3 linked regions of the Homo sapiens genome follow. The protein of the gene in region 1 interacts with the protein of each later gene in a pairwise test. Each region holds a gene or a part of one and is shown in the gene's direction. Other genes may lie near its edges. The genes, in order: RXFP4, QDPR and TTC4.

Region 1 (3,646 bases):
AGCAGCCATGAGGCCAGAAGGTAGCCTGTGGGGCTCACCTGACCTTGGGCTGGGCACTCCCCTTCTGCCACCCCCTTTATACTCATCCCTGGTTCGAAAGCCCCAACATGTTGGCACCCAGCCTGTATCACTCTCACCTCTGGGTTTCTCCTATGTGTTCACAAGCCCACTGCTGATTTATTGTCGCAAAGGGCCCCTCTCTTCCCTCAGCACTCCAAAGGAACTGAACATCGAACGTTATCTTAATTAGCTGGCAGAGGGCAAGAAGGGGCTGAATATATTGGAATCCTTGAGAAAGCCTTACTCTTTTACCTATCCACCTCCTGCCTTCTCTTTGTCCCCACCTCAGCTCCTTCTGCAGTAGGTAGAGATGTAGGCAATGAAAGGGGAGGGCCCAATGAAGCATTTTTTTTTTCCAGTTATGATTGAGATCATGGGGAGACAGGATGAGGTGTGGTGAGGGCGTATCTCAGGATCCTTAGCTCTGACATGGGGTTTGCAGGAGAGAGTAGGGGGACCGCTGAGCTCTGTCCACAGACTAGAGCAGGAAAGGGGGGAAAGGCGGCGATAGAGGTTAGCAGGAATGTTTAATTATCAGGAGCAGGAACAGAACTGAGGGCATGCCCAGGTCCACACAGGCCCTCATAGGCCCAGTGTTCCCAGTGGGGAGGAAACAGGAAGCTGTGACTTCCTCTCTCTTTTCCCTCCCTGCTCTTAGCCTCAAGGTCACTGCTGCTGAGATGAATTCCAACCTGTTTTAGTTGGCACTGTTCCCTGGGCATGGTAATAGCCTCTCAGTACCCTTCTGCCACAAACACCCCAAACTTCTCCTTTGAAATAATATTCATACAAATTGCTATTTCACATGTGTTCTCTCATTGCATCATGCCACTCCTGTGAAGCAGACTTACCTGAAAATTTTAAGCAAGAAAACAGGCTTAGGGGAGTAAAGTAACTCTCCCAGTCACACGGCTAGTGAGCAGCAGGTCTGGGACTCCGCAGCCTCCGCTCTTTCCTCTCTTGGACACCCATGCTGATTCCCTGCCTCTATGCCACCTCCCAGGCCCCTTGCTTTGGGCCCCAAGGGAACACTTTCTGCAGAGGAGGGAGGCCTCTGCACTGTTAGGAACAGAGGCAGCTCTAGTTTGGTTCCTGTCATCTCTGGGACAGGGAACCTCCAGCTCTCTCCCTGGGGTGGAGGCTTGGGGCTGCCCTCCATAGCGGGGTAACTCTCCCTTCTCCCCTCCCTCTCTGCCATTTAGAGCCCCTCTTACAGGCGGGCGCATGCACATATACCCTGGCATTCAGGCTGTGCCTCGCCCTGCCCCACCTACCACCAATCTTGACCAACAGGAAGGTGGTGGGTTGTCCTTTCCACACCCCTCCCTCTGAGGTGTGGGCGTGGGCCAGGGCTCACCAGAGGCCCCAGAGAAGCACTTAATTCTACAGCCTCCTTCCTAGAGCCTTCAGTGGCCTCTGCCAGTCTGGCAGACACTTGCAGACCTCTCTTCTCAGCACCACCAATCTCTGATGCCCTGCGATGCCCACACTCAATACTTCTGCCTCTCCACCCACATTCTTCTGGGCCAATGCCTCCGGAGGCAGTGTGCTGAGTGCTGATGATGCTCCGATGCCTGTCAAATTCCTAGCCCTGAGGCTCATGGTTGCCCTGGCCTATGGGCTTGTGGGGGCCATTGGCTTGCTGGGAAATTTGGCGGTGCTGTGGGTACTGAGTAACTGTGCCCGGAGAGCCCCTGGCCCACCTTCAGACACCTTCGTCTTCAACCTGGCTCTGGCGGACCTGGGACTGGCACTCACTCTCCCCTTTTGGGCAGCCGAGTCGGCACTGGACTTTCACTGGCCCTTCGGAGGTGCCCTCTGCAAGATGGTTCTGACGGCCACTGTCCTCAACGTCTATGCCAGCATCTTCCTCATCACAGCGCTGAGCGTTGCTCGCTACTGGGTGGTGGCCATGGCTGCGGGGCCAGGCACCCACCTCTCACTCTTCTGGGCCCGAATAGCCACCCTGGCAGTGTGGGCGGCGGCTGCCCTGGTGACGGTGCCCACAGCTGTCTTCGGGGTGGAGGGTGAGGTGTGTGGTGTGCGCCTTTGCCTGCTGCGTTTCCCCAGCAGGTACTGGCTGGGGGCCTACCAGCTGCAGAGGGTGGTGCTGGCTTTCATGGTGCCCTTGGGCGTCATCACCACCAGCTACCTGCTGCTGCTGGCCTTCCTGCAGCGGCGGCAACGGCGGCGGCAGGACAGCAGGGTCGTGGCCCGCTCTGTCCGCATCCTGGTGGCTTCCTTCTTCCTCTGCTGGTTTCCCAACCATGTGGTCACTCTCTGGGGTGTCCTGGTGAAGTTTGACCTGGTGCCCTGGAACAGTACTTTCTATACTATCCAGACGTATGTCTTCCCTGTCACTACTTGCTTGGCACACAGCAATAGCTGCCTCAACCCTGTGCTGTACTGTCTCCTGAGGCGGGAGCCCCGGCAGGCTCTGGCAGGCACCTTCAGGGATCTGCGGTTGAGGCTGTGGCCCCAGGGCGGAGGCTGGGTGCAACAGGTGGCCCTAAAGCAGGTAGGCAGGCGGTGGGTCGCAAGCAACCCCCGGGAGAGCCGCCCTTCTACCCTGCTCACCAACCTGGACAGAGGGACACCCGGGTGAAGGGCGCAAGCTGAACACACTCCTCTTTCTGAGATCCACCAAGTGTAGGATCCTTGAGTCCTGGGGAGAAGCTGCCCTCTCTGCCAGGCTGCAGTGCCCTCAGGGAAAAGTCTGATCTTTGATCCCCAACTCTGGGTGTGGTGAATGGGGGAGGCGGGGGCTCAGATCAGAGCTGGATGTGACAAAGCTTAAGTCTTTATTTGGAGATGGGAAAGAAGAGGATCTGAGAATAAACCTCTGGATTATCCACAAATTGTCTTGACCTTTTATCCCAGTTCCACCTCCAGTTCAGTATGGAACAAAAGGATTCGTTGCTCCATTTCTGCTTTCTGCAAGAATACCTAGGAAAACTTCCCTAAGGGTTCTAGGCTAATGAATCAGAGGTCAGTGCCCATCTCTCTCTGTACCCACCCCCCACCTCAAAACAGGGTATCCCTTGTCTTTCTCCGGTATCAAGGCCAAAAATGCCAGCTTCCCCTGTCCTCACCTTACCATCTCAGTGGTGACCACTGAAACTTGCTGCCTGCAGAGGCCTCAGCTGCAAAAGCTGTAGTTCCCTTGAAGGGATGCCAGGTGTGGGGTATTGCTGGAATTTCCAGCACCTGCCAGGCCCTGGGTGTAAAACCCTGGTGCTGACGGGAGTGCCTGTGTGTCTCCCTTTAAATCAGGATTTGAAAGAAGTGAAGATAATGACAAGTCAAAGACATGGGTGGGGTGAAGGGAGGTGAGCGATTAAAGAGGGGAGGGGGCTGGGAGAACAGGCTGCAGGTAGAGCCAGAAAAGCAGAGACCTCAGAAAGTGGTGCTAGTCCTCCCTGCCCCAAATGCAAAGCCCAGAGTATCAATTTGAGTGTCAGAGCACCTGGATTCACAGCTTTACCTCCAGCAAATTACTTTACCTCTTTGTACCTCACTGTTCTCAACTGTAAAATGGGCTACTAAAGATTTAACAGTGAAATATACTGTTAGCTATTATTCTTGT
Region 2 (3,728 bases), on another chromosome or scaffold:
TCACTGCAACCTTTGCCTCCTGGGTTGAAGCAATTCTCCTGCCTCAGCCTCCTGAGTAGCTGGGATTACAGGTGCCTGCCACCACCCCCAGCTAATTTTTTGTATTTTCAGTAGAGACGGGGTTTCACCATGTTGGCCAGGCTGATCTTGAACTCCTGACCTTGTGATCCGCCCGCCTTAGCCTCCCAAAGTGCTCGGATTACAGGCATGAGCCACCGCGCCTGGCCTGTTCTTCCTTTTTTTTAAAGCTGTTGTTTCTCTAACTAGGAAAGCCATTTGTGTTCATTGAGGAAAATTTGGAAAAAGTGAAAAATGATACAAAGATAAATTATATAATCATTTTGAGTTAGTTCACTGTTAACATTTTGGCCTATTGTCTTTTTCTATGCATATTGTATGTTACTCCTTTTACAAGTTTAGGTAATTTTGTATTTTATAGTTTATGGTAAGCTTTGTTTTTTTTTTTTTTTATACTTAAATAATTCTCCAGATTACTGAAAAAACCTCTTTGTAGATGTGTGATATTCCATTTTATGGAATGGCCACAATTTATTTAGTTTGTTTATTGTACATTTGAGTTTTTTGCAGGATTTTTGTTTTACTATTGTCAAGAATGTTGTGATGAACGTCTTTGTCTACATATCTGATTATTATTGTTTTTTGTTTTAAGAGAGTCTTGCTCTACTGTTGACACTGGAGTGCAGTGGCACAATCTCAGCTCACTGCCACCTCTGCCTCCCGGATTCAAACAATTCTTGTGCCTCAGTCTCCTGAGTAGCTGGGATTACAGGCATGCACCCCAATGCCCAGCTAACTTTTTTGTATTTTTAGTAGAGACAGGTTTTTGCCATGTTGGCCAGGCTGGTCTCGAACTTCTGACCTCAAGTTATCCACCCACCTTGGCCTCCCAAAGTAATGGGATTATAGGAATGAGCCACTGCACCTGGCCCACATATCTGATTATTTAGGATACATTCTAAAAAGTGGAGTTACCCAGTTCACAGCAGGAACACTAACAAAACAGGTTATTTTTAATTATAAAATGATATGCATATTATAAAACAAAAGTCCAACAAAACTACGTAAATATAGAAATAAACTGTGAAACTGTCCCTTTTCTCCCCATCATAGTATCATTTCCCAGAAGGATGCACTATTAACAGTTTGATGGATATCCTGGTATAAATATCTTAGATGCTCTAGGCTGGGTGCAGTGGCTGACACCTGTAATCCCAGCACTTTGGAAGGCTGAGATGGGCGGATCACGAGGTCAGGAGATCAAGACCATCCTGGCCAACATGGTGAAACCCCGTCTCTACTAAAAATACAAAAATTAGCTGAGCGTGGTGGTGCACGCCTGTAGTCCCAGCTACTCGGGAGGCTGAGGCAGGAGAATCACTTGAACCTGGGAGGCAGAGGTTGCAGTGAGCCAAGATTGTGCCACTGCACTCCATCCTGGGTGACAGAGTGAGACTCTGTCTCAAAACAAAAAAAAAAAAAAGAAAGAAAAATCTTTGATGCTCTTAAGCAGTGCTTAACTTTCTTGAGAAGCCCTTCTGGTGAGCTGCCTGGATGACTTTTGAGTCAGGTTCTCACTGTGTTGCCCAGGCTGGACTGGAACTCCTGGGCTCAAAGGATCCTTCTGCTTCATTCTCCCGAATAGCTGGGACTTCCTGAGTAGCCACTGTGCGCAGCTGACTCTGTGTTTAATGGTTTTTAGTGCTGTAGCCCACATTCCCAAGGATAACTTCACATCACTATGTGAAGCGCCTTATTTTCCCAACCACTCAGTGTGGCAGGCAGGCAGGCCATTTTACAGCTGTGAAGACAAGTTTGCGCGACTAAGTGACAAGGCCAACAAGCTACTCAGTGGTGGAGTCAGGATCATAGGTCTCCAGATACGAACTTTAATAAGTTCAGGTGCCACTTGGTCTGTACGTGGGTCTGCTTTTCATTTAGTTGCACTTTCCTTGGTAATCTCAATACTGATGTTTTATGATCCTTATCTGGTTTTTATAACAAATTTTTAAAATTTTAGAAGTGATGCATGTATGATATAGAAAATACAAATAAGCAAAAAGAAAAGGGAAATCATTTATAGTTCTACCATATAGTTAATCATTTATTTATATTTCCTTCCAGTCTGTCTCTCCAAAATATACATGTATAAATCTATACATTTTGAACATAAAACTGTGAGCACAACTCTGCTACTCATTTGCTCTTTCTAAAGTGTCAGTTTGACATAGATTGGAATGTAAAAGCCAGATGACTTATTTTAGCACTTCATTTTTGTTGTTCTTATTTTTCTCACTGTGGTCTCAATGTTCCCATACCTAAGTCATACAGATTGACCTTAGTGAATTTAATAGTGAAAGTTGACATGGCATCATTGTTAGTTGCCAGGCACCATTCTCAGTGCTTTATTTTCATTAACACGTGTAGTCTTCATTACATCCCCAAACAAAGCTTCTAATTTTATCCTCCTTTTAAATGGGGGTAACTGAGGCACAGAAAGGCCCTGGTATTTGTCCAAGGTCAAACAGATAAAAGGTTGCATAGCCACTATTTGGACATGGGCAGTGGGGGTCTGACGGCTGTTCTCTTAACTGCTATGCTAAGCTGCCTTAAAGCAAAATAGTTTCATGTGAATAAAGTAATAAAGGCCAAAATGGCTGGGTGCAGTGGCTCATGCCAGTAGTCCCAGCACTTCAGGAGGCTGAGGCAGGAGGATCACTTGAGCCCAGGAGTTTAAGACCAGCCTGTGCAACATGGCGAAACCCCATCTCTACAAAAAAATACAAAAATTAGCTGAATGTGGTGGCACACAACTGTAGTCCCAGCTACTCGGGAGGCTGAGGTGGGAGGGTGGCTTGAGGCTGGAAGGCAGAGGTTGCAATGAGCCGAGATCATGCCACTGCACTCCAATCTGGGCAACAGAGCCCAACCTTCTCTAAAAAACAAACAAAAAATAAAGTAATAAAAGCCAAAACTAAATGGAAGGGCGGTTCCTGGGCTTGGAGAGCAGCAGCCCTGCCAGGTGCGGGTCTCTGTAATTGGTGTCTCTTCAGTGTCTCTTCTGCTCTGATTAATTATAGGTTTCTAATGTCCCTGTAGATTGAATGTGGAGGTTGTCCCCACCCAAGGCTTGGCAGTAGAGTGCATCTCTAAGACAGAGATTGAGAGATGCGTTTGTGCTTATAAACTTTTCTTTGAAAATCTCTTCCTTCTTCTACTACTCCACCAAAGGAAGAGGAGTACCTTCTCCACCATACCCCCAACCTTAAGAATTTCTGAACAAACAGCATAACATTCAGTTTTGTCATGAAACTGGGGAAAGAGGTAATCAACTGAAATGTTCCTACTGGGAGAGACACAGGGTGTTGATTTAAGTCTTTTTTAAAAAAAACTAAATGTAGAGATGAGGTCTTGTTATGTTGCCCGGGCTGGTCTTGAACTCCTGGGCTCAAGTGATCCTTCTGCCTCTGCCTCCCAAAGTGCTGGGACTACTGGCATGAGCCACTGTGCCCAGCCTGATTTAAATCTTAAGAAGATTGGGCCAGGCGTGGTAGCTCAGTCCTGTTGTCCCAGCACTCTGAGAGGCCGAGGCAGGCGAATCACCTGAGGTCAGGAGTTCGAGACAAGCCTGGCCAACATGGCGAAACCCCATCTCTACTAAAAATACAAAAATTAGCTAGGTGTGGTGGCAGGCGCCTGTAATCCCGGCT
Region 3 (3,500 bases), about 100 Mb from region 1:
TTTGGGTTAAGTGTTATTTAAGCTTCACAGTGGCCTTCTGAAATAGGTTGTCTTGCTTCTGTTTTTTTGGATAATAGTTTCAGAGAGGTGAAGAAACCTTACACAGCTAACATGTGTTAGAGCCGGGTCCTTGCTCTTAACCACTGGGTTGTACAGCATCCTGAGAAAGTCTGACATTTTAGGATGTTGTTCCTATAACAACAACAACAATAACAAAATGCCACCCTGTCTTTCTCTTTTCTGTATTTTGAAATATATATAGTCTGACCCAAATCTTGCTTTAACCTTGATACCTAGGGAGTCACCTGTTTGAGATTGTTTGGTCTTAACAAAGGAGAGAATATCTGCTGGGAGATTATGGGATAGGTTTTTTTTTTTTTTGAGATGGAATGTCTCTCTGTCACCCAGGCTGGAGTGCAGTGGTGCAATCTCGGCTCACTGCAGCCTCCACTTCCTGGGTTCAAGCAATTCTGCTTCAGCCTCCCGAGTAGCTGGGACTACAGGTGCACACCACCATGCCCAGCTAATTTTTGTATTTTTAGTAGAGACGGGGTTTCACCATATTGGTCAGGCTGGTCTTGAACTCTTGACCTCAGGCGATCCACCTGCCTTGGCCTCCTATAGTGCTGGGATTATAGGCGTGAGCCACGGTGCCCAACCGGGGTAGGTTTTTTGTTTTATTATTTGTTCAGTTAAATTATGCACCATTTATGTTACTTGTTGACTGTAAGAAACTTAACACTGCTAAAACATACTCCACTATTCCCTCCCCACAACAATCTGTTTACATGTATTAACACGTTAAACAGATTAGAATACTCCAGATTTTCCATCTAATTCTCATTCACAGTGAGGGATTTGTTCGTTTTCTTAATTGTAGAATATGAGATGCCCAGACACCCAGACATTTGCATAAATCCTTTTTTTTTTTTTTTTTGGTTCTCTTCTTTAGTGTAACCCTTCATCTCAAACTTAGCATACATAAGAGTTACTCTCAACAGTACACGAAGCCATGCATGCTGTATTTTACTAATGGTTAAAGGGAGGAGTCAGCAAACTGCAGCCGTTGGAACACAGCCCTGCCTATTTGTTTATGTACTACTTATGGCTGTTTTCACACTACAGTGGCAGAGTTGAGTAGTTAATTTTGACAGAGACCATTGTCCAGAACTCTTAAAATATTTCATATCTAATGCTTTAAGAAAAAGTTTGCTAACCTCCAATTTAGGGGATATCATCAAATCTAATTTTGATTGCATGTCATTTCCCCTCATGTGCTAACCTTAGGCACCCCTGCACACTTACATAAGAGGTGACCCTACTATTTCAGACCCTTAATTTATGCCCATGTCTAGGAGACAGTCAAGATTAAGTCAATGCACACTCTTTCTAGTATTCCATGTCCCAACTAAACTGAAATATTTGACATTTCTTTTTTTTTTTTTTTATCTTTTCTGTCCTTTTGCACTTGCTGCTCGTTGGAGTGGAAGGCTCTTCCTCCCTTCTAAGTGCCCCTCCCTTCCAACTTCTCTGCTTTTCAAAGTCATTGTTCAAGGCCTAGCATATCTCAGTCACCTCCAGCCCCCAAGGCTGAATTAATTATTCCATCGTCTATGGTACTACAACTCCACTTCTTACCTTATATCATCATTATTTCCATAGCTGTCTCACCACTTGATATTGAGCAGAGGCTTGAGGGCAGGTAGCCATGTCTAGTTCTCTGTGACACAGGGTCCAGCACAAGATAGATGCCCAATGAAGGTGAGTTAAGTGGTACCTACTATGTGCCAGGCCTCAGGGATAATGAAGATGGATTGTGTGTAGAGCTGTCCCTCAGGGAGCTCCCATTGTTATGGTGTTTTTTTTTGTTTGTTTGTTTTTTGATGTATTAAAGTTAGTTGTCCATGTTCATTCAGGGTACAGATGAAGAAAATTAAATTAAAAATAAAGTTAGTCGTGCAGCCTGGGCAATATAGTGAAACTCCGTCTCTTCAAAAAATAAAAATAAATAAAAAATAAAAAAATTAGCCAGGCATTATGGTTTCTTTATTTCAGTAAAATGGGTTTGCATCCTCCCACACAATAAGATGTGCATTATGTGTGTGTGTTTCTGTCTTTAACCCAGGCTAGGAATATCAGGCTCTCAGAAGCTGCCTGTGAGGATGAAGATTCAGCCTCAGAAGGTCTAGGTGAGCTTTTCCTGGATGGACTCAGCACTGAGAACCCCCATGGAGCCAGGCTGAGTCTAGATGGCCAGGGCAGGCTGAGCTGGCCTGTGCTCTTTCTGTACCCAGAGTATGCCCAGTCGGACTTCATCTCTGCTTTTCATGAGGACTCCAGGTACTGACTTGCCCAGGAGCCCTCTGCTTTTGCTTGCATGCTGTCTCTGTTTTTGTGGCAGGAGGGACGAGTGGATTTTTGGTTGAGAAGGGAAGATAATGGTTTAGAGGGTTTCACACCATCTGGTTTGATAATAACCTCTCTATCCTGTAGCTGACTGAACCTTGACTAACTAGGTTTGCAACGACAGACAAAAGTCTCATCGTCATACTAACTGGGCTAGTACATGCAACACCACAGTATTGTGTTTGCCAAAGAGTGGTACACATCACTGGTGAAATAGGAAGTCATTTTAGGTAATACATGCATAGCAATTTAAGTGAATATTAATTAGAAAAAAAAATATAGAGGCTGGGCGCTGTGGCTTATGCCTGTAATCCCAGCACTTTGGGAGGCCGAGTCAGGCAGATTACTTGAGGCCAGGAGTTCGAGACCAGCCTGGCCAACATGGTGAAACCCAGTCTCTACTAAAAATACAAAAAATTAGCTGGGCATCTGTAATATCAGCTACTCAGGAGGCTGAGGCATGAGAATCACTTGAACCTGGGAGGTGGAGGGTGCAGTGAGCCGAGATCATGCCACTACACTCCAGCCTGGGTGACAAAGCAAGACTCTGTCTCAAAAAAAAAAAAAAATAAAAAAGAGATATATGTATGTCTTTGATAGATATGTATATATATCAGACTTAACTTGTGATTTCATAGGGTTAATGTGTAGAATGAGTCTAAGTGTAAGAGTGTAAGAAAAGTTTTTTTGTAATTTTTTTTTTTTTTTTGGAGACCAAGTCTCGCTCTGTTGCCCAGGCTGGAGTGCAGTGGCATGATTATGGTTCATCACAGCCTCCAGCCCCCAGGCTCAGGTGATCCTCCTGCCTCAGCCTCTCAAGTAGCTGGGACTACAGGTGAACATCACCACATCTGGGTAATTTTTTAATTCTTTGGTAGACACAGAGTCTCTCTATGTTGCCCAGGCTTGTCTTGAACTCCTGGGCTCGAATGTTCCTCCCACCTCGGCCTCCCAAAGTGCTGGGATTTACAGGCATGAGCCACTGCACCCTACCAGAAATGTTTTTAACCTTGAAGCTGTTTAAAGAAAATTATGTCAGCTGGGCATGGTGGCTCATGCCTGTAATCCCAACACTTTGGGAGGCCAAGACAGGA

The links.
Region 2: the proteins of RXFP4 (region 1) and QDPR interact in a two-hybrid assay, tested with the Homo sapiens proteins (one large-scale study listed by BioGRID and IntAct).
Region 3: the proteins of RXFP4 (region 1) and TTC4 interact in a two-hybrid assay, tested with the Homo sapiens proteins (one large-scale study listed by BioGRID and IntAct).

Annotation. Positions count from the first base shown.
Region 1 is NC_000001.11:155,940,170-155,943,815, forward strand, and holds RXFP4 (relaxin-3 receptor 2), read left to right. Parts: upstream 1-1,468; 5' UTR 1,469-1,540; coding exon 1,541-2,665; 3' UTR 2,666-2,918; downstream 2,919-3,646. UniProt on the Homo sapiens protein: High affinity receptor for INSL5. Also acts as a receptor for RLN3/relaxin-3, as well as bradykinin and kallidin. Binding of the ligand inhibit cAMP accumulation.
Region 2 is NC_000004.12:17,505,376-17,509,103, reverse strand, and holds part of QDPR (dihydropteridine reductase), read left to right. Parts: intron 1-3,728. UniProt on the Homo sapiens protein: Catalyzes the conversion of quinonoid dihydrobiopterin into tetrahydrobiopterin.
Region 3 is NC_000001.11:54,729,361-54,732,860, forward strand, and holds part of TTC4 (tetratricopeptide repeat protein 4), read left to right. Parts: intron 1-2,125; coding exon 2,126-2,340; intron 2,341-3,500.